Regions from separate parts of the Homo sapiens genome. Here regions 1 and 3 are each linked to region 2. The links come from fine-mapping of genetic effects on gene expression. A gene starts in region 2. Each other region holds a variant in brackets. All regions are shown on one strand. Distances are between the middles of the regions. Region 1 has its middle 13 kb from the start of CST8. Region 2 holds the start of NAPB (NSF attachment protein beta). Region 3 overlaps GZF1 (GDNF inducible zinc finger protein 1).

The links. PIP is the estimated chance that this variant, and not a neighbour inherited with it, causes the effect.
Region 1: its variant is fine-mapped to the expression of NAPB in whole blood (TOPMed, PIP 0.97).
Region 3: its variant is fine-mapped to the expression of NAPB in monocytes (BLUEPRINT, PIP 0.95).

The regions. Positions count from the first base shown.
Region 1 is chr20:23,473,665-23,481,848 of GRCh38, reverse strand. It overlaps the pseudogene CST12P. Among named protein-coding and RNA genes, the nearest start is that of CST8, 13 kb to the left of the region's middle. RefSeq lists an enhancer at 5,344-6,171 and a silencer at 5,883-6,177. The variant C/T (reference allele first, on the strand shown) is at 3,264.
Region 2 is chr20:23,416,617-23,424,800 of GRCh38, reverse strand. It overlaps NAPB (NSF attachment protein beta), which reads left to right and starts at 3,313. Exons shown (of 11, transcript NM_022080.3): 1 at 3,313-3,496. The coding sequence starts at 3,399. RefSeq lists an enhancer at 2,935-3,124 and silencers at 3,375-3,464, 4,095-4,324.
Region 3 is chr20:23,366,977-23,375,160 of GRCh38, reverse strand. GZF1 (GDNF inducible zinc finger protein 1) reads right to left here. Exons shown (of 6, transcript NM_022482.5): 3 at 8,064-8,158; 4 at 6,232-6,399; 5 at 5,420-5,577; 6 at 2,099-5,070. The coding sequence ends at 4,720. NAPB (NSF attachment protein beta) reads left to right here. Exons shown (of 11, transcript NM_022080.3): 11 at 1-639. Among named protein-coding and RNA genes, the nearest start is that of GZF1, 8.9 kb to the right of the region's middle. The variant G/A (reference allele first, on the strand shown) is at 3,909.

The DNA of each region.
Region 1 (8,184 bases), 57 kb before region 2:
GGGTTTGACATAGATCTAGAATTTAGAAATATATGTCAATTTTGTGTACTATAACTTTCAATATGTTTACTTCCTACTTATTCAGGCCACTTAATGACTGACCCAAATCCAGAGAGGTTTCTCCAGGAAACAAGATGGACTCCTGGATTCTGGCTGATCTTGGATATTGACACATTATTCAAAGCTCTACTGGTTTGAGGTCATCATATTACTAACAAAAGTGGCAGGCACAAAATTTACTAACCCTACCAAAGCTGCTTGCATAGCTCATGGCCACTGGGCACCATCAACAGTGAAATCCGCAATAGGGCTATGTTTTCAATTTCTATGAGAGCCGGAACTAAAGAACACAGGCCATGGACAAAATACCCAACTGCAGTAAACACAATTTCTAAAATATTGGAGTACCTTAAAGAACCACTTCACAGCCATAGCCCCAAGCACCGAACACCTGAGGACTCCAAGTATTTATGATTTAGGCCCAAATTTTCTGTTGCAATACAGATAGGGGTAATGCTTGGTCCCTAAGAGAAATATAAAATGAAACCAGTGGGATTTTGTGTGGATCAAGGTAGAAAACAACTGGCTTATTGTGAAAAAGAGCAGGATGCCAGGCCTTCCTTGTGAACTTGGAATTAAAGGTAAAGGTGCTTCCATCAGCAAGCAATGCTGACCAGAGCTCAGGGAGGGTGTGGCTGTGCTTGTCCGGAACAGTAGGCATGGGGTCCATAAACAAGGGCTCCACCCCTCCCAGCCTGAGTGCTCTCAAAGCCAAGGGCCAGCAATTGATTGGTTTTGCTAACCATGCAGACATCCCCTTGGTAATATAAATATGCCCTATCAAATTATGGAGGGATGTTGCACACAAATCCTGCACAGAAGTTGGCCGAAGGACCAAAGCTGCCACATCTTTTTGCCATGACAGATGGAGCTACCCAAAGCTGTTTCTGAAAATTCTGTCCCATAAGCCCTATGGCAAATTCATGGGAATGAGCTATCCAGGAAAAAGGCAGACTTCTTACCAAGAAATATTCAAATCACCCCCCAAACCAAGGATGGAGGAGTAAAGACTCCCTAGCCCTTCTGTTCGGGAAGACTCCTCCAGAAACTGTTGCACTGTCTCTTTGCCCAATGCATGTCCCCCCACCACACCATCCCCTCATCTCTCTGCCCCTCCAAGGCTGATCCCCCACCAAGACCCCAGCAGAGAGGACTGCTTGTCAGGATGGGTGTCTGTCACCACAGTGCTTCTCCCAGGGGCAGTGAGTGATGCTGGCAGCTATGAAGCCCTGGCTGGGTCCCAGATAGGTAACACAGGCATCAGGAGCAGGTGTGGGCATGCAGACTGGAACTGCCATCTTCTGAGCTCTGGAGAAGACATCTGAGCTCTGGAGAAGACATCATTGTGATTCATGCAGCCCTCGGTGTCCACAGAGGGCAGAGCCTCCTGTCAGCTTCAGTGACCTTCTCTGATCCCTAGGCCTGCGCCTGGCCCTTCTGCAGAAGAGCCACCCTCTGTGAGCCTGTTCCTGAGATGGAAACAGAAGGGTCATGTGTGGTTAACAAAATTGTCTGCATTCCTTTAGAGTGGATGGATGATGGCATAGAGAAATGGAAGGATGAATGAATGAATCAGTGCATGAATGAAGGAACAGATGGATGGATGGATGGATGGATGGATGGATGGATGGATGGATGGATGGATGGATGGATCGATGGGTGGATGGATGAGTACACCAACCAACTGGTGGGGGGCTCCTACATGAACTGCCTCAAATCAACTGGGGAGTTTGGTTTATTCAACAGTCTACACCTGCAGCCAAGGTAACGATGATAATGAATTCTCCCTTGCTTATCACTGCCAGAAACATCCATGGCAAATAAATAATAGGAAAGAGTGCAAAACTGTTCACAGACCCAGAAGGAGCTAAGATGTCTTTAATTCTGCTAGTGCAGCATAGGCCTAGAACTACAAACTTTCATACTCTAGAGGAAGAGAGGACTTCTGCTGCAAAAAATCAGGGGCTCTGCCACCACCTGTTTCCACATTACAGGTGATGTTTAGGAGGTTGAACTGGGAAAACCAAGGTCGGGCATCCATGACAAATGTGCAGTATACCTGAAAAAAAATAAGTATAACATATAAATTAGAAAAATGTAATGCACTGAGAGCATTTAGCATGTAGTAGGGGGTCAAGATGTATTAAAAACTACAAAAAATGAAAAACAAAAACAGTCATCCAGGAACAGGGCTTGAAATGCCCAAGCCTCCACCAGGACAAGGGGCACAGGTGGCTGAATGCTCCCACCTGAGCCTGGGGATTCCTGAAAGCATGCCTGATTGGGCCATCACCTGACCCCTGAAGCATCGTGTCCACTCACAATCTCCCTAGCACACATGATGCTGGATGAACGGCTCCCACCCTGTGTGTTCTAGGGGAGAGAATGAACTTCCCAAGGGATGGTCCCTCTGGGCACCCACCAACTGAGCACAGCAGTTGACAGCAAGCCTGCAGGTGGAAGGGCGAGACCAGCCCTGCTGCTCCTGTAACTCTGATTCAGAGCATCCTCAACCTCTGAGCTCACATGGGTCATGTATGGGTCATGGGAGGATGGTGTCAGAACTCAGACTGACTAGGACACATCCTTACCACACAGGAACTAGAGGGACAGGTTGAGTGACCGGAGAAACTAGACAGTCCTGCAATCCCCAACAACAAAATAAGAGTGAGGACTGCATGGAGAACATCATCTACCTGGATCTCGAGGGTCTCAGGAAGGTACTGGCCTGGGGAGCAAAGTGAGGGCTTGGTCTGGGGACAAAGGCCATGTAGAATCTGCAGGTGCCTGCTATGTCCAGTCAGCCATGCTGTAGGCAGAGGGATCTCCCTGGCACTGAGGCCAGGCTTTGTCTGCTTACATGCCAGCCTTCTGCCTTCACTGAGGGAGCCCTGACACCAGGTGGGAGAGGGCTCAGGGACCCTCATTCTGCCCCAGGATCACCTCTGATGACCTTTCTAAGCCTCCTCCCAAAGGCCCACCTTGATATTACTATCCATTCCCGAGAGATTCATGATGCTTTGGGGTTGATTTTATTCTCAAACCTTTTTCTCTGCTGAGCCTTCTTGCAATGGGCAATTGTCAATGTCTTCATCATATTTTTTACAAATTGTGAGGCCCATCTCCAAATCTGTTAAAAATATCATTGTCTGAACTCAAACAAATTTACAAGGAAAAAACAAACAACCCCATCAAAAAGTGGG[C/T]GAAGGACATGAACAGACACTTCTCAAAAGAAGACATTTATGCAGCCAAAAAACACATGAAAAAATGCTCACCATCACTGGCCATCAGAGAAATGCAAATCAAAACCACAATGAGATATCATCTCACACCAGTTAGAATGGCAATCATTAAAAAGTCAGGAAACAACAGGTGCTGGAGAGGATGTGGAGAAATAGGAACACTTTTACACTGTTGGTGGGACTGTAAACTAGTTCAACCATTGTGGAAGTCAGTGTGGTGATTCCTCAGGGATCTAGAACTAGAAATACCATTTGACCCAGCCATCCCATTACCGGTTATATACCCAAAGGTCTATAAATCATGCTGCTATAAAGACACATGCACACGTATGTTTATTGCGGCATTATTCACAATAGCAAAGACTTGGAACCAACCCGAATGTCCAACAATGATAGACTGGATTAAGAAAATGTGGCACATATACACCATGGAATACTATGCAGCCATAAAAATGATGAGTTCATGTCCTTTGTAGGGACATGGATGAAATTGGAAATCATCATTCTCAATAAACTATCGCAAAAACAAAAAACCAAACACCGCATATTCTCACTCACAGGTGGGAATTGAACAATGAGAACACATGGACACAGGAAGGGGAACATCACACTCTGGGGCCTGTTGTGGGGTGGGGGGAGAGGGGAGGGATAGCATTGGGAGATATACCTAATGCTAGATGACGAGTTAGTGGGTGCAGTGCACCAGCATGGCACATGTATACATATGTAACTAACCTGCACATTGTGCACATGTACCCTAAAACTTAAAGTATAATAATAATAATAATAAATCATTGTCCACGTCTGTCAAGAAGAATTATACAAACAGTTGCTAAGTGTTTTCTTTTCATGAATTTTTTTAAAAGGCAGAGAAACAAATAGGAAAGTGGATAAAAGGCTGCCATGTGCATGTCATATAAATAGGCCTAGACAGGGCCATGTACAATCTCTCTGCAGGTCAGTAGAAGACAGTCCACTAAGTGTGCTTCAGATACACACTGGAATCTTCCCAATGACTAATACCTGACAGACAAATTGACAGAGTGATAAACATAGGGTGTGACACACTCACACAATCAAATCCTGCGCAGCAGTGAGCCTGCACATGCCGCAGCCACACCTAACAATACACTGCCTCTGCCTTACACCTGAGCCTCAGCCACACACAGAGGGCTCACACTGGGTGGTTCCTTTTACACAGAGTGAGAAATGGGCGAGACTAATGCCTGGGATTAAAAACTAGGTCAGCAGGACTCCTTGCAGGTTAGAATCTAGATGGGATCACAGAGGGGGCTCTGGGGGATGGCACTGTTCTGCTTCATGTGAGTGCTAATTGCTCGTAACCATCTACCTTGCCAGTGATCATCGAGGTGAATGCAGAGCTGCACCATGCTGTTGTGCATGTTTCTTAGGCTTCTATAAGAAGTGATTAAAAGTTATTTTCATTTCTTTACGTAGAAGTCCATGAAACTCAGGAAGCACCCAAATGTAGAGAGAAAATGAATCCAGACCAGAAGTCTGGACAGGCTGGGGCACAGGTCTCACTGGACAGCCTAGAAATTGTCGAGAAACTTGACCCAGTCAAGGGCTCAGCAATCCATGCTGGGGTTGAGATGATACCCAACTATGCCCTGGAACAAACTAACAACCACACTCATGCCCCTATACACACAACACACTCACATTCATGACCAACACACACAACACACTCACACTCATGCCCCTATACACACAACACACTCACACTCATACCTAACACACACTCACACATGCATGCCCAACACATGCCAGAAACATGCACTCATGCCCAACATACACCAACATACACTCACGCGCAACACACACCAACACACTCACACTCATACCCAACACACACACCACACTCACACTCAAGCCCAACACACACCAACACACTCACACTCGTGACCCTATACACATAACGCACTCACACTCATGCCCAACACACACTCACACACACATGCCCAACACATGCCAAAAACATGCACTCATGCCCAACATACACCAACAACATACACTCATGCCCAACACACTCACATACTCATGCCCTGACACACACCAACACACTCACACTCATGCCTGACACAAACCAACACATTCATACTCATGCCTGACACACACCAACATACACTCATGCCCAACCCTCAACACACTCACACACTGATGCCCCAACACACCAACACACTCACAGTCATTCCTTGATTCACACCAACAGCACACTCATGTTTTTACATATATCAATAACACACTCACATACTCATACTCCCATACACACCAAGAACACTCACATATGCCCTGCCCCTCCTTACATTCTCCCCTTTTAGGCTGGCATGAAGCCCCCACCCCGGGCACTGTGGCTGGGCAGCAGCATAACCCCCCTGTGCCCAGGGCTCCTGCAGCCTCCCAGGGTCCAGGGATGGGGATGCAACCCAAGGAAGGGGCAGATGGCCAAGGAAATGGGCAAAGATCAGGAAGGCTGTGTGCCCACCGCAGGAGGAAGGGCCCCTGAGCCCAATCTTCAGAAATGTGGTGCAGACATGGGACCCCCTCCCACGTCACCCCCTGCTGCCATCACCACGGGCTTTGAGCTATTCAGTCGGTGAAGAGAGTTCTGGGAGTGGACAAAATGACTGCCACTCACCTTCTGCTGGGCTCGCTGGACCTCCAGCAACCTGTGCGTGTACTCTTCCATATTGTCCTCATTGAACTGAGCCACAGCAAACTCCATTGATGCCACAAAATACTGATGTCTACGAATTCTTTTTGAATGATCCAGATGCGGGTGCTCAGCACAATAAGTGCCATGAGCAGGGGCACCTTCTACCACATGGCTATCCTCAGCGTACCCACTGGGGGCCAGGGACACTCAGGTGGAGGAGTGGTGGCAGCTGCTGCTGGTGACTCCCTTCTCAGCTCTGGGTCCCACACAGCCCTGTCCACCAGGGGCCCTGAGCTGTTGAGCACCTCCCTTTGAGCAGTGCCTTGTCCAGTGCCTCTCTCCACAACCCCGCAGAGTCCCTCCGTTATCTCCAAACAAGGCAGAGCAGGAGGTCACATAACTTTGGACCTGCAGGCATGCATGCAACATGCCTGCTGCCTACCTTTTCAGGGAAGCCTCCTCCAGCTGCAGCCCAGCCCTGAGAAGACCCGGTGGAGACCTCGAGCCCACCTGGCTTGCCCTCACATAGTGCATGTAAGGCTCACCAGGGAAAAAGAAATCTCTGAGACCTCTGGTGAGCCAGTTCCTGAAGAGCAGAAGCAGTTGCTAAGCCTGCCCATGACGGGGCTGGAGCCCACATTGCCAGCTGGGCCCAGGAGAGCACAAAGTGTGTGGCCAGTGGGGCTCTGAAGGGTGCAAGGGAGATGTCTATAAGAGTCCATTTTCCCTGCTGCCAGACCTTCCTCCACCAGAAGGTGCAACTGGCTTCATCCTCCCAGGCTGATTATTAGTTTTCCTTCATTTCAAAACCAGTTGTAATTTCCACTATGACATTTTTTTTAATCTGTGGGCTATTATAGCTGTATTGTTTAATTTCCAAATGTAGTTGATTTTCTAGTTATCTTTTCTCTCATCGACTTCTAATTCAAGTCCACTATAGTCAGTCAGAGAACACCATTTCATTATCTCCCTTCTTTGAAATTTTTGAGTTATTTGTCTAGAATAACCAATATTCTATTAATATATGCAGTTGAAAAGAATACGTATTCTGCATTTTATAGATGTAGAGTTAGATATTTATATACATCAGTAAGTCCATTCTGTTGAAATTTTCTATATATTTACCCTTTTTTCTTTATTTCTTTTTTTTTTTTTTTTCCTGAGGCAGAGTCTCACTCTGTCACCTAGGCTAGAGTACAGTAGCACGATCTCAGCTCACTGCAACCTCTGCCTCCTGGGTTTAAGCAATTCTCATGCTTCAGCCTCCCAGGCAGCTGGAATTACAGACATGTACCACCACGCTTTTGGATTTATAGTAGAGACAGGGTTTCACCATGTTGGCCAGGCTGGTCTCAAACTCCTGGCCTCAGGTAATCCACCCGCCTCAGCCTCCCAAAGTGCTGGGATTACAGGCATAAGCCACTGTGCCTGGCCATATTTACTCTTTCTACTTTGTCTTGTTTTATTGAGTTTGGTTTGGTTTGGTTTTGGTTTAGGTTTTGGTCGCCTTTTCTGCCAGTTACTGAGGGGTATGTTAAAATTTCTCATGATGATTATGATTGTGAATTTGTCTATTTCTTTCTGACAATTTTTGCTTGATTTATTTTCAGACTATGTCGTCCAGGGCTTATACAAGTAGAATTGTTACACTTTCTTGGTGGCTGACCATTTTATCATTATATAATGTACCAGTTTATGCTGAGTAATGCCTCTTGCTCTGAAGTCTGATGTCAGAGACACCAAAACATTTAGCATTGTTTTGATTCTTATTTACTTGAATATCTTTATTCATACTTTTATTCTAATATGGTATCTTAATTAATATGTGCCTTTATAACCACCAAATAGTTTTTTAAATCAGTCTAAGAGTCTTATTTGGAAAGTTGTTCCATTTACATTACTCATATTATTAGTTACTAATGACTAATATTACCATATGTTTGGTTTCAAATCTACCATATTGCTATTTGTTTTCTATTCATTTCATTTGTCCCTGTTTCTTGTTTTATTCAATTTCTTCTCCTCAGTGGCTTTTAGTTAACCTCCCCTTTTGTCTTTTCTTTTTTTTGAGATGGAGTTTCACTCTGTCACCCAGGCTGGAGTGCAGTGGTGCAATCTCAGCTCACTGAAGCCTTCTGGGTTCAAGCAATTCTCGTGCCTCAGCCTCCCGAGCAGCTGGGACTACAGATGTGAGCCACTCTGTCC
Region 2 (8,184 bases):
TACAAGTGTCCAGAACTTCTGAAAAGCAAAGCACATAGAGGCTAGTGCCATCCACTAGGACTTGTGGAATGATAAAATTGTTCTCTGTCTGTGCAGTCCATATAGTAGTGTAGGGGGGCATCTCAGGCTCCTGGTGGAGTCTGAAAATTAAACTTACATAAGACAAGTTAATAGCAGGAAAGCACACAGGTGTATTTGATACAAGTTTTACATGGCATGGGAGGCCTCATAAGGAAATGAAAACCCAAAGAGGCAGTTAGAGTGTGTTACTTATTTACTGAATTGGACAAAGAATAGTAAACTGAAAATGTGATGAGGCAGAGGGGCTTGGGCTAGGGTAGTTAATTGGATAGAAAAGTGACTAAGAAGATAAGGGTTAGTTTAATAGGGTTTGTACAGAATTCTCTTAGCCTCAACTTCCTGTCTTTGATGATAAGAATGTTGCTTTAGTTCTAGTATAAGAGGGACATCTTTCATATGGGAATTTCATCTCTTGCCTTTAAATAAACAAGAGGTTGGGGCCAGGCGCGGTGGCTCACGCCTGTAATCCCAGCACTTTGGGAGGCCGAGGCTGGTGGATCACGAGGTCAGGAGATCGAGACCATGCTGGCTAACACAGTGAAACCCCGTCTCTACTAAAAATCCAAAAAATTAGCCGGGTGTGGTGGTGGGTGCCTGTAGTCCCAGCTACTTGGGAGGCTGAGGCAGGAGAATGGCGTGAACCTGGGAGGCGGAACTTGCAGTGAGCCACTGCACTCTGGCCTGGGCAACAGAGTGAAACTCTGTCTCAAAAAAAAAAAAAAAAGAAAGAAAGAAACAAGAGGTCAAAGTGTCCAGTGTGTATTCTGTATGCAAAAAAGAAAAGAAAAAGTCAAAATAATCTTCTTGCACCTGTCGTTTTTTGGGTGTCTAACTTTTTTTTTTTTTTTTGAGCAGAGTCTCACTCACTCTGTCGCCCAGGCTGGAGTGTAATGGTGCAATCTCGGCTCACTGCAACCTCTGTTCCACCTCTCAGGTTCAAGTGATTCTCCTGCCTCAGCCTCCTGAGTAGCTGGGATTACAGGCATGCACCACGACACCTAACTAATTTTTGTATTTTTTGTAAATTTTGTATTTTTGGTAGAGATGGGGTTTTACTGTGTTGGCCAGGTTGGTCTTGAACTACTCACCTCAAGTGATCCGCTTGCCTTGGCCTCCCAAAGTGCTGGGATTACAGGCGTGAGCCACCGCCCTCAAGTATCTAACTTAGTCAATCCACCAGGTGTCTAACTTAGTCAATCCACCAGGATGCTATATTTATAACTCTTTCAGTAGCCACTGGCTATGTGTGGCTATTGAGCACTTGAAATACGGCTAGTACAGCCAAGAAATGGAACTTTACATTTTATTTAATATTATTTAACTTGAATGTAAATAGCCACCAGTGGTGAGTGGCTCCATCCTGGGCAGCGCAGGTGTGGGCAGTGGGTCCTTTGGCTCTTCTCCAAGATGACTTCTATTCTTCTCCTGATCCACACCAGGGGTGCTTCTCCTTTCCTTTTCCTTCTTGTTTCAAGGATTCCTCAGCTGTCTCTCTAGTCAGGCCTTATTCTGTGAGGTTCATCTCTCTGCCCTGCCTCCTTTCCTCCCCCAGCCTTTGGGAGAATAAAACACTAGCTCTACCCAGTAATTAAGGTTTGAAGGTTTTCTCCCACTTTGGTGTGGACTGGCAGAACGGTGGGAGTGCCCACAAATTTCCTGTGACAAAGAAGAGAATGAAGGAAATTACTAGAAACCACCAAAAATGTCTCTCTTAATTGCAAGTGCTAGCTTCGGGGAGGCAGTCTGTTCCAGCTCCTTTTCAACTGACTACAGATATGAGAATCTAGAACTGTGTGCTTTAGGATAGGGATGGAGAGTTCTTTTCAAAATGTGCATTTTCTAGACCCCAGCTGCAAGAGACCTTGATACCAAAACCCAGTGGCCTAGGAATCAGTATTTCTTAAATATCCATTAGAGCTTCTGCATCGAACCACGTTAGGGAACAACTGATTTAATCAACACACTGATTTACTTAGGAGCTTTTGACTTAGCCTCACTCCATTAAGCCCCCATAGACTGCTCTGCTTTCCAAATGCTTATGTTCACTTTTTACAGTTTTTCTCTGGTCTCCCCTGCATTTACGGTCACCTCCAATTTCCCGCCTCCTTCTCTCTCCAAAAACACACAGCTCAGCTTTTCAAAGTTAGAATAATGCATGTAGTAATCGTAAATAAACTGCACGAAGAGCTGAGATTTCTTTCTATCTCTACGGAGTCCTGAAATGTATGAACTCTGTGACATGTGCTTTAGTCAACTTTCTTTCTAGGAGTTTGGCCCCTCTTGCCTTGCCCTCTACAGACAGTCTTCATTTTCTAAAATTTTGCATGCCAGTGCCCAGAGTGTATTTATTAACAGTTTGAAACTGTCATAAATCTCACTTGGCAGTGATTTTCTTATTAGTTTCAGCATCTCTGCCTTAGCACTGCCAAGCTTGAATGGTCTAGACATTGTCTTCAAAAATAACTCCCTCTGGGACAGGCCTGAAAGTCTCTGGCACAGGATCCCATCTATCTATGGATACTTCTCCTAGGAGATTAGAAGTCTTCCTGGCAGGCAAACATTTTGTCCCTGGAGATCCATCCACTATGGCCAGTATTATGTAAAGGATAAGAGTTCAATGGTTCACATCCATTGAATATAATTCAGTCAACAAAAGAGTGGATTATGCATATATTGCATATATGCAACTCATTTATAACCAAGGAAGAGAGGACCAACAGAAAGTTACAGTTTGGGGAGATTTAAAAATAACTGAACTTATATTGGGGACGTCTTGCTCTTGGAGATAAAAATGGCTCTTATTGCCAGCTGTTGCTCGTTTTTTGGTGGGCGGTATCAAGCATGTGATGCTTTGGTGGCTACACCAGATTCTCTTTTGCAGAACTTGCATGAAGGGTGTGGGTTCCATCCAATCTGTTATCCCCTGTTCCTTCATCCATCCCATTGCCATGCGAGTCTTACTGAGGAGGTGATCTTTACTAGAGGCCACGGATCATTTTTCCATTTCTGCATACATACAAAATTAAAGTTCACCTTGGCCCAGGACCCCTTTGGGGGGGTCACGCCCCCTGCGCCGACGTCCTGGGAGCTAGCGGTGCGCAAGCTCGGCTCACACACACCCCGCCCCGGGGCCTCCTGGGAACTGTAGTAGGCGGCTCGCGAATCCCCGCCGCCATGACAGGACCCGGACTACAGCTCCCGAAAGGCCTCGCGCGTCGCGCCTGCGCCTGCGTCCCTGCGGCCGCCAGAGGGAGGGTTAAGGCGCCTGGGCGCACAGCGAGCCGGCTGAGGGGGCTGTGGCGGCCGCGGCGGGCGACATGGACAACGCGGGGAAGGAGCGTGAGGCAGTACAGCTGATGGCGGAGGCCGAGAAGCGAGTCAAGGCCTCCCACTCCTTCCTCCGAGGGCTGTTTGGGTGAGCGCCAGACCGTGCGTGCCCTGGGGGGGGGGGGTCTCCGTACTTGGCCCCCTTCCTTTCAGGCTGACCCCCCGAGTCCCCCACGCAACCTCTGGGGCCCTCAGACCACGTCTAGGGGCCCTCAGCCTGCAGGCGCCCTCCAGAAATCCTGTAGGGTCCCCCAGCGCCCCCTGGAGCCCCCAGGACGCCCAGGGGCCCTCAGTCCGCACGCGCCCTCCAGAGACCCCACAGGCCCCCCCAGGGTCCCTGGAAACCCCGCATCCTCCCAGGGGCTCTCAGCCCCCACGCGCACTTTAGAGACCCCCTAGGGCCGGCAGAACTCCCCAGGGTTCCTCAGCCCCCACACGCTCTCCGGATCCCCTAACACGCCCCCTTAGAATCCCCAGAGTCTCACAGGGACCCTCAGCCCCCACGCGCCTTTCAGAGAACCCCTAGGACCCCCAGAGCTCCCCAAGCGCCCCACGAAGCCCCTAGAACACTCTGGGGGGGGGGCTGTCAGCCTCACGCGCCCTCTGGAGACCCCAGATCGCCCCCCTCGCCCTGGCCCGGGTTGGTGCGGGGGTCCCACGACCTAGAAGGTCAGCGGCTCCCTGAGGCCCGCGGGCGCGGTAGCTCGGGGCGCGCGTGGGGCCCCCTTCTCAGTGCGTAGCGAGTCGTATTGGTGCATTTCGCCACGCTGAAGCCCGTATCGCTCCTGAGACCGGTCCGGGTGAGGCGCGCCGGGGTGGAGCCGGAGGGGTGGGTGCGGGGGCCGCCCCCGGCGCCTGGAACGCGCACCTGGGGGCGTCCCGCCTGCAGGTGGGCCCCGCCGGGGAGGGGGCGGTCCGGCGAGGGATCCAGAGCTGGTGTGCTTGTTGGCCTCTCTCCAGGGGCCTTGCGCCGAGTACACCTTTAGTAAATACTTGACTAATGAACGAATATATTTTCTCAGCATAGTATTTTTCCTTCTCCGGAGATTGATTGATAGCCAGAGCCTCCTGTTTGATTAACGGTAACGCTGCTGCTGTTTAAGTCAGGCGTCCTTTGGGAATCCCTTTAATTTCCTGTAATTCTTCCGTGCTCTCCTAAGGAGGATTTTAAATTCCAACCTCTCAAAAAGCAGAGCCCGCACTGACAGCCCGGAAGAATTCTGGGCTGTTGAATATGTGAATGATTCAGCTGTTTAGGATGAGAAAGGCAGAAATTTTGTGTGTGCCTGTTTCGTTGTTTTCTTTTGAAAGTGAAAGATCCTTTGCTGTTACCAAGAGCAGATACTTAACCCATTGCATGACTAGACACGATTTTATTTCTGTACACATTCAGTTCAGACTCTATTTCAGAAGACAGACATAATGGGCTCTTAGCTTGTTTTGCCAACTTCATTCTTTTGGCTATAAATTATAATACTTTACCGCTATTGATACGTCTTTAGGAAATGCTTAAGGACAAGTTGCATGCAGTACGCATAACTGCAGAAATGCATAAAGGCTGCAAAAATGCAAGAAGATAAGGGTCCCTGTCCTCAGGAACCTCTCAGAGGACGTTTATCACAGCTGGTTTCTAAATTTCTCATGTGATGTGTAGGAGATATAGCTATGAATTATGTTTTGTTTTGCATTTAAAAGTTATGACAGTACCATCAAGTGCTAGCGCCACACTAACTCCTTTTAAATGTTTTGATTCACAAAACATTTAAAATTCACTCTAATAAAATTTAATGTCATAGTACCTCATGCCAGGAGGTTATTTTAATGTTACAACATTATTTCAAGTCAGGAAGTGCTTCCCTGTGGGAGAGTCTGTAACTGGCAGAGGAAAAAGCTTGACAGCACTTGGTGCTTGTCTCAGGAGAACACTCCTTTTGGGAAAGAGGTTTTCGATGTTTTTAGGAAACTAGGCCAAATCTTGAGCTTATAATCCTTAAAGGATTTTGAAAAGCCTTTGTTTTTAAAGAAACATCTCCCTTTTAAATGTTGCTACCTATGTTATTGACAGGACATATAAGAAGACGAATCTTCACCATTCACACTCAGTTACACAAAAGTTAATGCATCTTAGTTCTTACCTGGGTACAACAGGTTGGTTTATTATCTAGCTTTGGGACCTAGGGCAAGTTACTTAGCCTCTCTGTGCTTCAGTTTCCAGTGTATAAAACGGAGACAATAATAGTATATCTCAAAATTTATGGGAGTTCAGTGAGGTTATGTTTATAAAACATTTGGAACCATGGATGTTGGAGACAGTGACCATGAGATATTAATTAGCATATTCATCAAAATTATCAGCTCCAGTTATTTATCAAAGAAGCAGTAGGCCAAACAGATAACTTTTCCAGAATTTCAGAGCCGTAGACTGCATCATTGATTTTTTTTTTTTGAGACGGAGTCTCACACTGTCACCCGGGCTGGATTGCAGTGGCGGGATGTCAACTAACTGCAACCTCCGCCTCCCAGGTTCAAGCGATTCTCCTGCCTCAGTCTCCTGAGTAGCTGGGATTACAGCCACCCGCCACCACGCCCGGCTAATTTTTTTTTTTTTTTTGTATTTTTAGTAGAGACGGGGTTTCACTGTGTTGGCCAGGCTGGTCTCGAATGCCTGACCTCGTGATCCACCTGCCTTGGCCTCCCAAAGTGCTGGGATTACAGACGTGAGCCAGCACGCCCAGCCTCATTGATCTTTTAATGAAATAAAATATCTGAAAGAGCTTTAACCATTAATGTACCATGCAAGTGTGATTTATACTTTGAAGACTGTTATTTCCAGTAATACTTGCTCCAGGAAAGCTTGCAGGAAGAAGAGTACTTAGAATTTTAGGAGTTTAGTAATATTGTATAATTACTGAAGCCAGAAAACAGACGTAGTGTTCCTGTGTCAGTAGGACAATTAAGATTCTGTATCAATTTTAGATGTTTAGAATCCTACCTTATAGATGGCATGTATCATCACCTTTCTAGACTGGAATACATGTTATTCCACCCTGCCCCTGCCTTCTTAGCTATAGAATGTCACCATTTTCATTCCTAAAGGTCTGCATGTAATCCTTTATTTAAAACGCAGAGTAATCCATCTCTATGTCAGACTCCAGAATTAATGTAATACAAAATTAATAAAACACACATACTGACTTGAATATCATCAGAGCTCATATATTTAAGAGCTGACTAGCTGGTGCTTTAAAGAGGATAAGCCATCTGTTTTCAGGTTGTGGCAGTCATTAAAAGCTGCTTGGCATATTGCAGATATTTCACATCACAGACATTCTGAATGCTCTATCTGCAGATTAAAGCCTGTCATGAGTTCTCTAGTGTTTACCACTCACAGTGGTTTTGTGGCAATACTGTATTCTTAGTAGTATTCTATAGCTTTTGTTTCTTGCTTTCAGTAAAATTAGATGAAAATATGCATATGTATTTATGAGAACATGTCAGTCAAATATTTCTTCTCTGTGTAAGGCACAAATCCTCTGCCTTATCTGCTTGATAGGTAAGGTATCAATATTCCTTTCCCATCCCCACCTTCCTCCCCAGGAAAAGAGCTGACAAGGGATGCAAACATTGCAGGAAACCACTGTTGTGGTGGTTTGTGTTTCTGCTTAATTGCCCGTTAAGCAGTAATGTGCTTTTGTAGTTGTGGAATTAAAACTTTTTCTCAAGTTTGTAGTATAGTACGTTTAGTAAAACTACTTCCAAAGGAGTTGTCTTGTCCTTTAGTTTGTTGCCAGGGATGAGCTATGGAATTTTGTAGTTAATTTCAAATTCCAGTTTATAATGTTAATGAACTACTGGTATGATTTTAAATCGGCCTGAGTCTGACATTAAGATAGTTTTGAATTGGAAAAGCCTCTTATAATACTATCCCCTCCATCTTGTTGCTATGAGACCCGGTTGGGAATAACCTGCACAATGCACATAGAAGAAAGTGCTTAAGACTGACAGTGGAGGCCAGGTGCAGTGGCTCACGCCTGTAATCCCAGCACTCTGGGAGGCCGAGGCGGGTGGATCACTTGAGGTCAGGAGTTTGAGACCAGCCTAGCCAACATGATGAAACCCCGTCTCTACTAAAAATACAAAAATTAGCCTGGCGTGGTGGCGGGCGCCTGTAATACCAGCTACTTGGTAGGCTGAGGCAGGAGAATCACTTGAACCTTGGAGGTGGAGGTTGTAGTGAGCTGAGATTGTGCCACTGCACTCCAGCCTGGGCCCCCGAGCGAGACTCCGTCTCAAAAAAAAAAAAAAAAAAGAATGCCAGTGGAAAGATGTTCTTTATGGTTAATGCTGTCTTCCTTTGCCTTTCAGTGTTTAGTCTGAGTTTACACAAGAGCTACAAATTTGGCAATGTCAATGTAAATTTAATGAAAGGCCCCATTGGGTTATCTTGAAATAATTATGAATCTATAATTTGTTGGTTGTTTGTGAAAATTGTGAATATTTCTTAAGCATTGTAGACTGTAAATTATCAGTATTCTTCACTTGTGTTTATTTCAACAAAGATTGCTTTTAAGTTTGGCCAAAATATGGTGGGGCCATGTGATAACATAGGTGAAGCATTTAGGTTTTCCTCAGTTACAATTCTTGTTCAAATGCAGATTGAACTTTTAAAAAAATTATTAGGCTCAGGTTTACTGACAGAGACAGGTGATACAGTATAAGAAATATATACGTATATTTGTGTATCTTTCTCAAAAGAAATCGATTATAAATTGAACA
Region 3 (8,184 bases), 50 kb after region 2:
TCAAAGTAATTGTAATGGCTAGAAGAGACCTGCCAGAAGATTAAAAAAAAGAATGAGAGAAAAGCCCAGTTAGTGGTGTGCAAACTTACTTCCTTTAAATGTCCCATGGATGTAGGACAGTGCCATGTTTCAAGATGCCTGTGAGCTAGGTCTTCAAGATTTATAGAATGTTACTTATGAACAAAATATAATTATTTATGGTACAATTCTTGTACTTTAGCAAATCTGGAGTTAGTTCATAGTCAAAGTCAGTTAATATTTCTTAGAGGAAAGTTTTGCTTTTTGTGGCAACATTTTTATAGCTTGTGTGAGTTCTTTTTTATTTAATGATTTGAAAGCAGTATTTTTGCACAGTCGTGACCGTGTGTGGTGGCGTCACTGTAACCAAAGTATATGCACCAGCCCTTGTGCATTTATTGTTTCTCCTGATTTTGTGGATTTAAATGTCCAAATGCAAACCTTTGTGACTTCCTTTGGAGGACTTGGCAGCACAGCATGCCCCCGTGACCTGCCTGCTGTGGTATGAGCTATGACCAAGAGCAGGCTTCCTGCTCCATGGAGTCCTGAGTTGCTCTGGGGCAGGGGATTACGTTATGAAAACTAACCATGTGTAACAATAAATCTACCTTAGCAGAAAAAGTATGCTTGTTTTATTTTAACCTATAAAGTGGAAATTATCAGTAATATTTTGATGAGTCTTGTTGCTAAATTGGCATAGGTCAAAAGTAGCTTCCATTGTTTCAAGTTGTTCCCGTTAAGATTAAGGCAACAGACGTTAATACTCTCTAGGCTCCGGTCATTTGTTGGGAATTCCAGGGCACCGTAATGGTTTTGCAGACTGAGGGTTTAGAAGGAAACCCTGGTAACTTCTGTTGATGCAGTCCACTAAAGTACATGATAACCCTGCAGACCCCACATTCTCATCCCTTCCTTGAATCCTTTAGGGTCTACAGTTACTTGCAAAGTTGAGGAAGGCATGGTTGCTGGAAGACTGGTGGGGAGGTGAGGCACCCCTAAGCCTGACACTCTCCTACCCCAAGAAAGTACCACTCAACTATCTGGTCAGTGTGGGCATTTATTTTAATTTTGCAAAATATCTGCACAGGGAGAGGAGATGCCCCTGGGGAAGGGTCAGTCCCACTGACCACTGGGGCCTGAAGTTCTGATGAGGAAGAGGACCCATGGCGGGTAGTGCAGACCGGCTCATCCTACCATCCTATCATAGAGCCTTGATTTCAGGTCCTAAAGTATATTCACAACACTTCAGGTAAGTCAAAGCAAAATGTTTTAAATGGTAGAACAAGCTGTCCTCATCTAGGCATTCTGAGTTGTTGATCATTCAAAGCCTAAATCAAGTGGCTCTTCTCAGAATCAATTTCCTAATGAAGATGCCACCATGGTAGTTTAAAAGCTTAGTTTTGTCAGCCTTAGTTAAGAGTCCACGTACGGATTGCCAAAGGTATGCAGATGATTTTCTGAGTCTCATTTAGCATGATGTGATAGATCAGGGGTCCCCAACCCGTTAGAAACTGGGCCTTACGGCAGGAGGTGAGCTGCAGGCAGTGAAGCTTCATCTGTATTTGCAGTCACTCCCCGTGGCTCACATTACCACCTGAGCTGTGCACCCTGTCAGATCAGCAGTGTCATTAGAGTCTCATAGGAGTGCAAACCCTATTGAACTGCGCGTGCACGGGATCTAGGTTGTACGCTTTTTATGAGAATCTAATGCCTAATGATCTGTTGCTGTCTTCCATCACCCCCAGATGGGACTGTCAAGTTGCAGGAAAACAAGCTCAGGGCTCCCACTATACATTATGGTGCATTGTATAATTACTTCATTGTATATTACAATGCAATAATAATAGAAAGTGCACAATAAATGCAATGCGCTTGAATCATCCTGAAACCATTCTGTCCCCCCACCTGTGGGAAAATTGTCTTCCACAAAAGTGGTCCCTGGTGCCAAAAAGGTTGGGGACTGCTGTGCTAGATGATCCTCTGACCTGTGTGCCTTTCTCAGTCACATCAAATGAAATATTGTTACTCCTGAGTACATGAATATCATGACATTTGGTTAAATTGACAAGTACCCATCTTGTTTCCCAAAAATGAACTCCTTGGAGGGACAAGGTTTATTTAACAGGTTAAAAATTAAATTATACACTCAAATTTACTTGTTTGGATAATCACCTACAGCAAAATCACATTTCTGTAAAAATCACCTTAAATAAAGGTCTCCACCACATGGCCCATTTTTTCCAAACGACAGCAAAGAATTTGGTAAAACGAAAGGCTGCACATCCCTTTGGAGTTTGGGCTGACAGCATTTCACAGAAAATGGTTGGAAAATGGTTGAAGCAAGCTCCTAAATGGCCCTTCTTGAGGCTCTGGGAGAGGCACTGTGCCGGCACCTGGCCACTTTCCTCATTACACACTTGGGACCAATCCACTCAGATGGTGGCCTCGCTTCCACTCAGCATGGCTGTGCTTGGACTTGGAGGAATGGGGCAGATGCTCCAGGAGGTCCTCTGTAACCAGTCCCCTACAGGGTTACGTTTCTCTGTTCTCAGGGACAGAGAAATGTATATAGTAGAAGTCGTATCTTTGATGCCTACTTTTTACATTGAAGAAAGTGGCAGAGAGCTCAACCGCACTTCCAGCCCGGTTGTGGCCTGCGCATGAGCAGAGGCCAGGATTTCTCCTCTCCAGGATCCCACTGCCAGAGACCAACTGGGATCCAAGCAGTTAAACAGCTTAATCCTAGGACTGTATGAAATAAAGGCTTATGGACCCGGATTTTACATTTCATTATTCACGTAATTAAGCAAATTATATGTTTCAATTAAGAATCATATTTCTGCAGAACCTAAATTATAACAGAAATAGATCTTTAAAAAATTGCAAAACTGCTTTTACAAAGCAGACATTTATTAACAACATTTTTTTGTAGAATTTCTAAGGAAACAAATTCAAGACAAAAATCCCTCCAGTAGGTAACAAAATGATCTATTGTTTCAATTCCTTCTGATCAAGTGACTTTATTCCATAAAACAGTACATCAGCTGGGCAGGTTCGGTCTCCTCTGGATGTATGACAGTCATTATTTATTTGTGCTGTAAACATAACTAGGATACAGTGACACTGTCATAACTAAATTTGAAGTAAATTAGTACTGTGACCTCCAAGGGCAGGTGTGAAGCATGTTATCAGCGCCTGAAACACCTTGTAGTGGTTTCACTAACATAAGTTAAAACATAAGCACTTAGGAAGAAAGTCTTCCCTCATTAATTTCTGGCATAGTGCAGCTACATGTTCATTCTGGAACTTAAAGTACCTTCCTCTTAGAAAATCAAAGTGTTTTCACAGCAAGTTTAATAAATTAAAAATGTAGAGAAAAAAGGAACTAGTGAACAAAAGAATTCTCCAAGGTTCCCTTTTTAAATTAATGTTTAAATGTTACATGTGAATCATAGCATTTCACAAGCACGTGGCACATACTCAAGGCCCTAGAACCAAATGTCAACGTTTAACAAATACAGCAGAATCGTCTTTTCATTGTGAATTTTTAAAAGCAATAATTAAGTCCTGCATGAAACAGCCAAAGAAGCATTTGGGACAAAGTTACTGGTTCTTCACAATCAACTCTTTAAGGCATAATCGGAGGTAAGTGTGCTGAGACTTTTGGTCCCTACTGCTATGTTCTCACATGCTCCCAAGGAAATAGACATGTCAGTTACTTGCCTGTTTCCATCTCTAGGTGTGGAAATGAGAAGTCTGGGTTTCTGGAAATTACAGAAATCAAGTCAGAAAAACCTGGCAAAAGTAATAATACTCTGTGTTCTATAATTTGCCACAGTCACCTCATTTTGCAAATAAAATGACTACACAACTTTCAAGTACTCTAAAGC[G/A]TCTTAATTTTTCATGCCTCTGCAAAAAAATACTATATTGTTTTGCTAGACTCTTTGGTAGGACAGCTTTTACCTAATCTGATTTTTTTAAGACAAACTGAACAGCCTCATCTCATTTCTAAGTTGATTTTATGACAAACTTCCTAGCTGCGTATGTGCTGAGATTACGCTAGCAGTTTTGCAGGTGTTCAATCTGTCAGTCATACTTTGTTTACTGCCTACAAATGGGGGGTGGGGAGGAATGAATGCAACAATCTATTTCTTCAGTTGCATTTGAGGGTCCCCACAGAAAATCTGATTTGCTTCAATTCAACAGGGAAGAAATGACTGAAAATATGTGGCCCCAGTTTTATTTCAGCTTGGAAGAAAAATACCTTGAAAGTAGTTATGAGAGAAGTAAACCCACATGGAAATATAAGGCAGAGTGAGAAGCCAGGAAGACTGCTAACTACAATATCAGGAGCTGGTTCAGTTCTCTGTACTCTGCAATTAAGACCAGCAGTTATCTATAAACTAGGTAATCAAGAATTAGAACGATTAGCACATACACCCTACACCAGAATTAAGTGAGGTTATGTTCACTGCCTTTTTGTCAATAAAGTAGCTGAGATCATGCAGATCAGGATTTTTGAGGGAAAGCTTTAAAAATGCTGTGATAAAGCCGTGCAAGTTAGCAGAAGTTCAGGAAAATCTGCAGAGGCCATTCTTGCCCACATCTTTGCACATGGACAATTATTTTTCTTAGCCCCACATCATCTTGAGTTCAGCTACCACACACGCAGACTAACAGGATGGGAACTGCTTGAAGCTCTTATTCCATGTTGCTCAAAGAGTGAAGCTGTGTGGGCATCGAGTCTGTCTGTGGGGTCAGCTCGCTAAGCTCACTGATGGTGGTGGCCAGGAGGGTGTCCTGGGACACCACGGAGTCATCTGCCTTGCAGGCTGTGTCAGCAGAACTGTTCTCCTGCATGGTAGGTACAGTGTCTTGGACTGCAGCCAGGTTGTGGAAATGGCCATTTTCTGCAAAAGACAGCAATTTATCCGAAAGCTTGGATGACACATACTCTTCGTCAGGCTGTTCAGTCTTGTGTCCGTCATCGTTCTTGGGCGAGCCATCTACAATGACAAGGAAAGACTTCCATGGAGTATTCTTATCGTGTATCTATAAGTTAAACACAAAACAAAGGTCACTGAATGTGTCTCTGGACAAGTGCATCTTTTAAAACAATAGTCCCTCTACAACTTCAATTTTCAACTTTCACTAATAAGTACCCGCCTGCCACCACCCTCACTGTTACAGAGTAGTCATCGTGGATGGTGCTTTCCCTGGGCCTTGGGGCTTGGTGTTCCACTTCATTCATTCCGTGAGCGTTCCACTGCAGAGACAACCCAAGGAGAAAGTACCTGTTGTCTCGACCTCTAACCACCTTGGAGAATGGTGGTAGGTATTTCTCTTTCCGTGCATCTAAGGGCAGCAGCTTGTTTCTCAAATAAGCCAACCCACTGCTTACTGAGGTGTGCCGCCGAAGAGTGGACTTGTCGGTGAATGTCCGTCCGCACGCATTGCACATGAATGGCCTCTCCCCTGTGTGGATGCGGCGGTGGCGCTGGAGGGCGTTGAGCTGGGTGAACTGCTTGCCGCACTGGTCACAGCAGTAGGGACGCTCCCCTGAGGCAGGGAGAGAGGAGACTGCTGGTGGGTCCCTTTGGCCTACTGTGCTTAATTCTGAATACACACTTGAGTGAATGATGCTGTTGCAAACCACTGGGAAGCCTCAGCATCCAACATAAGGAAGGTTATGTTGGGAACAACTTAAGGGCTACAAATCCACTATCTCTATAATACCAAGAATTTATGGCCTACACCAAAAAGGGGCCAGGACATGTGCCTGCAGCAGGTATTATAACTATAGGAATGACACCTGTTTTCCATGGTAATGGAGTATAAAATTACAAGACCCCTAACAACTGAATATGCATGTGTGCATGTGCATTTACTAACATGTACAGATCATTATCCCTATGTCCACACATCCACATCCACTTCCTACATTCACACCATGACTAAGCTGTCTGTCCTTTTCAGTAAAAACTCCATGTAGCAAAGGGACTTAGTCTTCTCCCGTTTACACACATAAGTGCTCCCACTTTTCAGTTTCTCAGAGTTAGAAACAATCTCTAAAGAAATGCTATTATGACATACAAAGTTTGGCCAGTTTTCTTCAAAAGCTTAGTTCCAAGTAATTTACTGGTAAATCTACAAGCTTTAGAATTTTTTTTTTGGCCAAACTAAACTCCCTTCCCTGGGACATTCCAACCATACCTGTGTGGACTTTAATATGCTGGTACAGTGAATTCCGCTGGGCAAAAGTCCTGAAACATACTTCACATTTAAAGGGTTTGGATCCAGTATGGATTCTATTGTGGTGTTTTAAGTACTCCTTAGAAGCAAAACTCTTGCCACATGTTTCACACATAAAAGGTCTTTCACCTACATGAGAAAATGAAATAAAGTCATAAACAATACAGGCATTAAAAACACATGGAACAGTAGGTCTCCACTGTTAAAACCCACGTGAACTCAAAAGTGCCTTGGTAGGCAGCATGTTACATTTTCCAGTAAAAACTATCATAAAATATATATTCATGTAAGATGCTTGCTACTTACTGAAAGTTGGTGTAAAATATCCTTGGAAATTGCAAGAAAAATTCCATTTGACTAGAATCAAAGAGGTATTGTTTGTTCAGCTGGCTCACATTTTAGAAATTTACTCATTCCAAACAAGAAAATAATTTCACAACTTCTGTTTGGAGGAACTGCTGGATTATTTTCAAAGGAACACTTCTATGGATCTTTATCAGAATAAAGGGGAAGTTGACAATGGATATATATCACTATTCTAGAGTAGCAACTCCAATCAACTTGATTGAATTGTAGGACAAGAGTTTTAAATATCTCACTTTTTGTAGTTTAATCCCACAAATCAGACTTACCAAATTATTAGCTGTGCCCGATTTCACAGACATCAAAATAAAAATAGTGACTTTAATAAAATCTTACCATGTTAATATTATCAAAGGACCAATTCTAACTTAATCCTTCATTATAACCTGACCTTGTCCCCAATCCCAAGCTTTCTTTAAACAATTCTACTCATTCTGTAGTCATAATGCATGTCATTAAATGCTAATTTCATGACATTAAATGAGATTTTCATTCAATGACATGAATTATGACTTCAGAATGAGCAGAACTGGTGTCTAATCACACAGATGTGGTGTCTAATGAGTCAGAGACATGTCATCTCTGTCTCACATGCATTTGAACTTGAGGCTTGTAAGCCAGTGTTTACAGGTAAGAATAAAAAATGCAAGCAAAGAAGAAACTGAGAAGAATTGGAACACTTCAGTGCTGTATGCTTCTGTATCTTCCACAAGATTCTAAACCTCAGGGTTACTGTGCTGAAGCAGAATAAAGCCAACTTAAGTTTTATCTGTCACATAATTAATAAATCATAAAGACTTTGGAAAACAGAAATGAGATAATCCTACTACCTTAATGTATCATATAACAACTTATTTTCTTCTGGTCTTTTATGTGCAGGTTTTCAATACAATTGAGGTTAACTGTATGCTTAATTGTGCATTTTAAAGTTGAACATCCAAGCACAGACTTTTTCATGTCATTCAGAGCCCTTACTCTGAATAGCCGGGTCATAAGCCAGGGTATAGATTTACCAGAGTTGACTAGAGCACTTCCTTGTAGTTGGACAATCAGGCTGTTTCCCATTCTTAGTTAAAAATAGCAAGAAGGGGGATAATAGCATACAGCTCTTCCCATATGTTGGACAATTTCTTTAGGACAGAGTCTTAGAAAAAAAAATTTCGGTTACAAAAGAACTATTTTATATCTCTTGATACCTAAGACCTGCATGCCAGATCCTATGGCCTGGTGGTATAAAAGCCACAGCCATGTGCACACTAGCAACAAGGCAATGGGTGTATGTTTATTCATTTTGCTCACTTACTAGATGGAAAAGCTATATCATGGCTTTAACCTGCACCACCTTGGTAGATGCCAACTTCAAAATTAATCAATTGCATTTCCTTCTAGATCTAGGAAAGACATTCAATCACAACAGCATGAGTATTTACCTGTGTGACACCTTTTATGATAAATCAGCATGTGGTTCTGAGTGAATCTTGCACCACATTCATCACAGACAAAAGGTTTTTCCCCTGTATGAATTCTGAAAGTACAACATTCAGATGATAA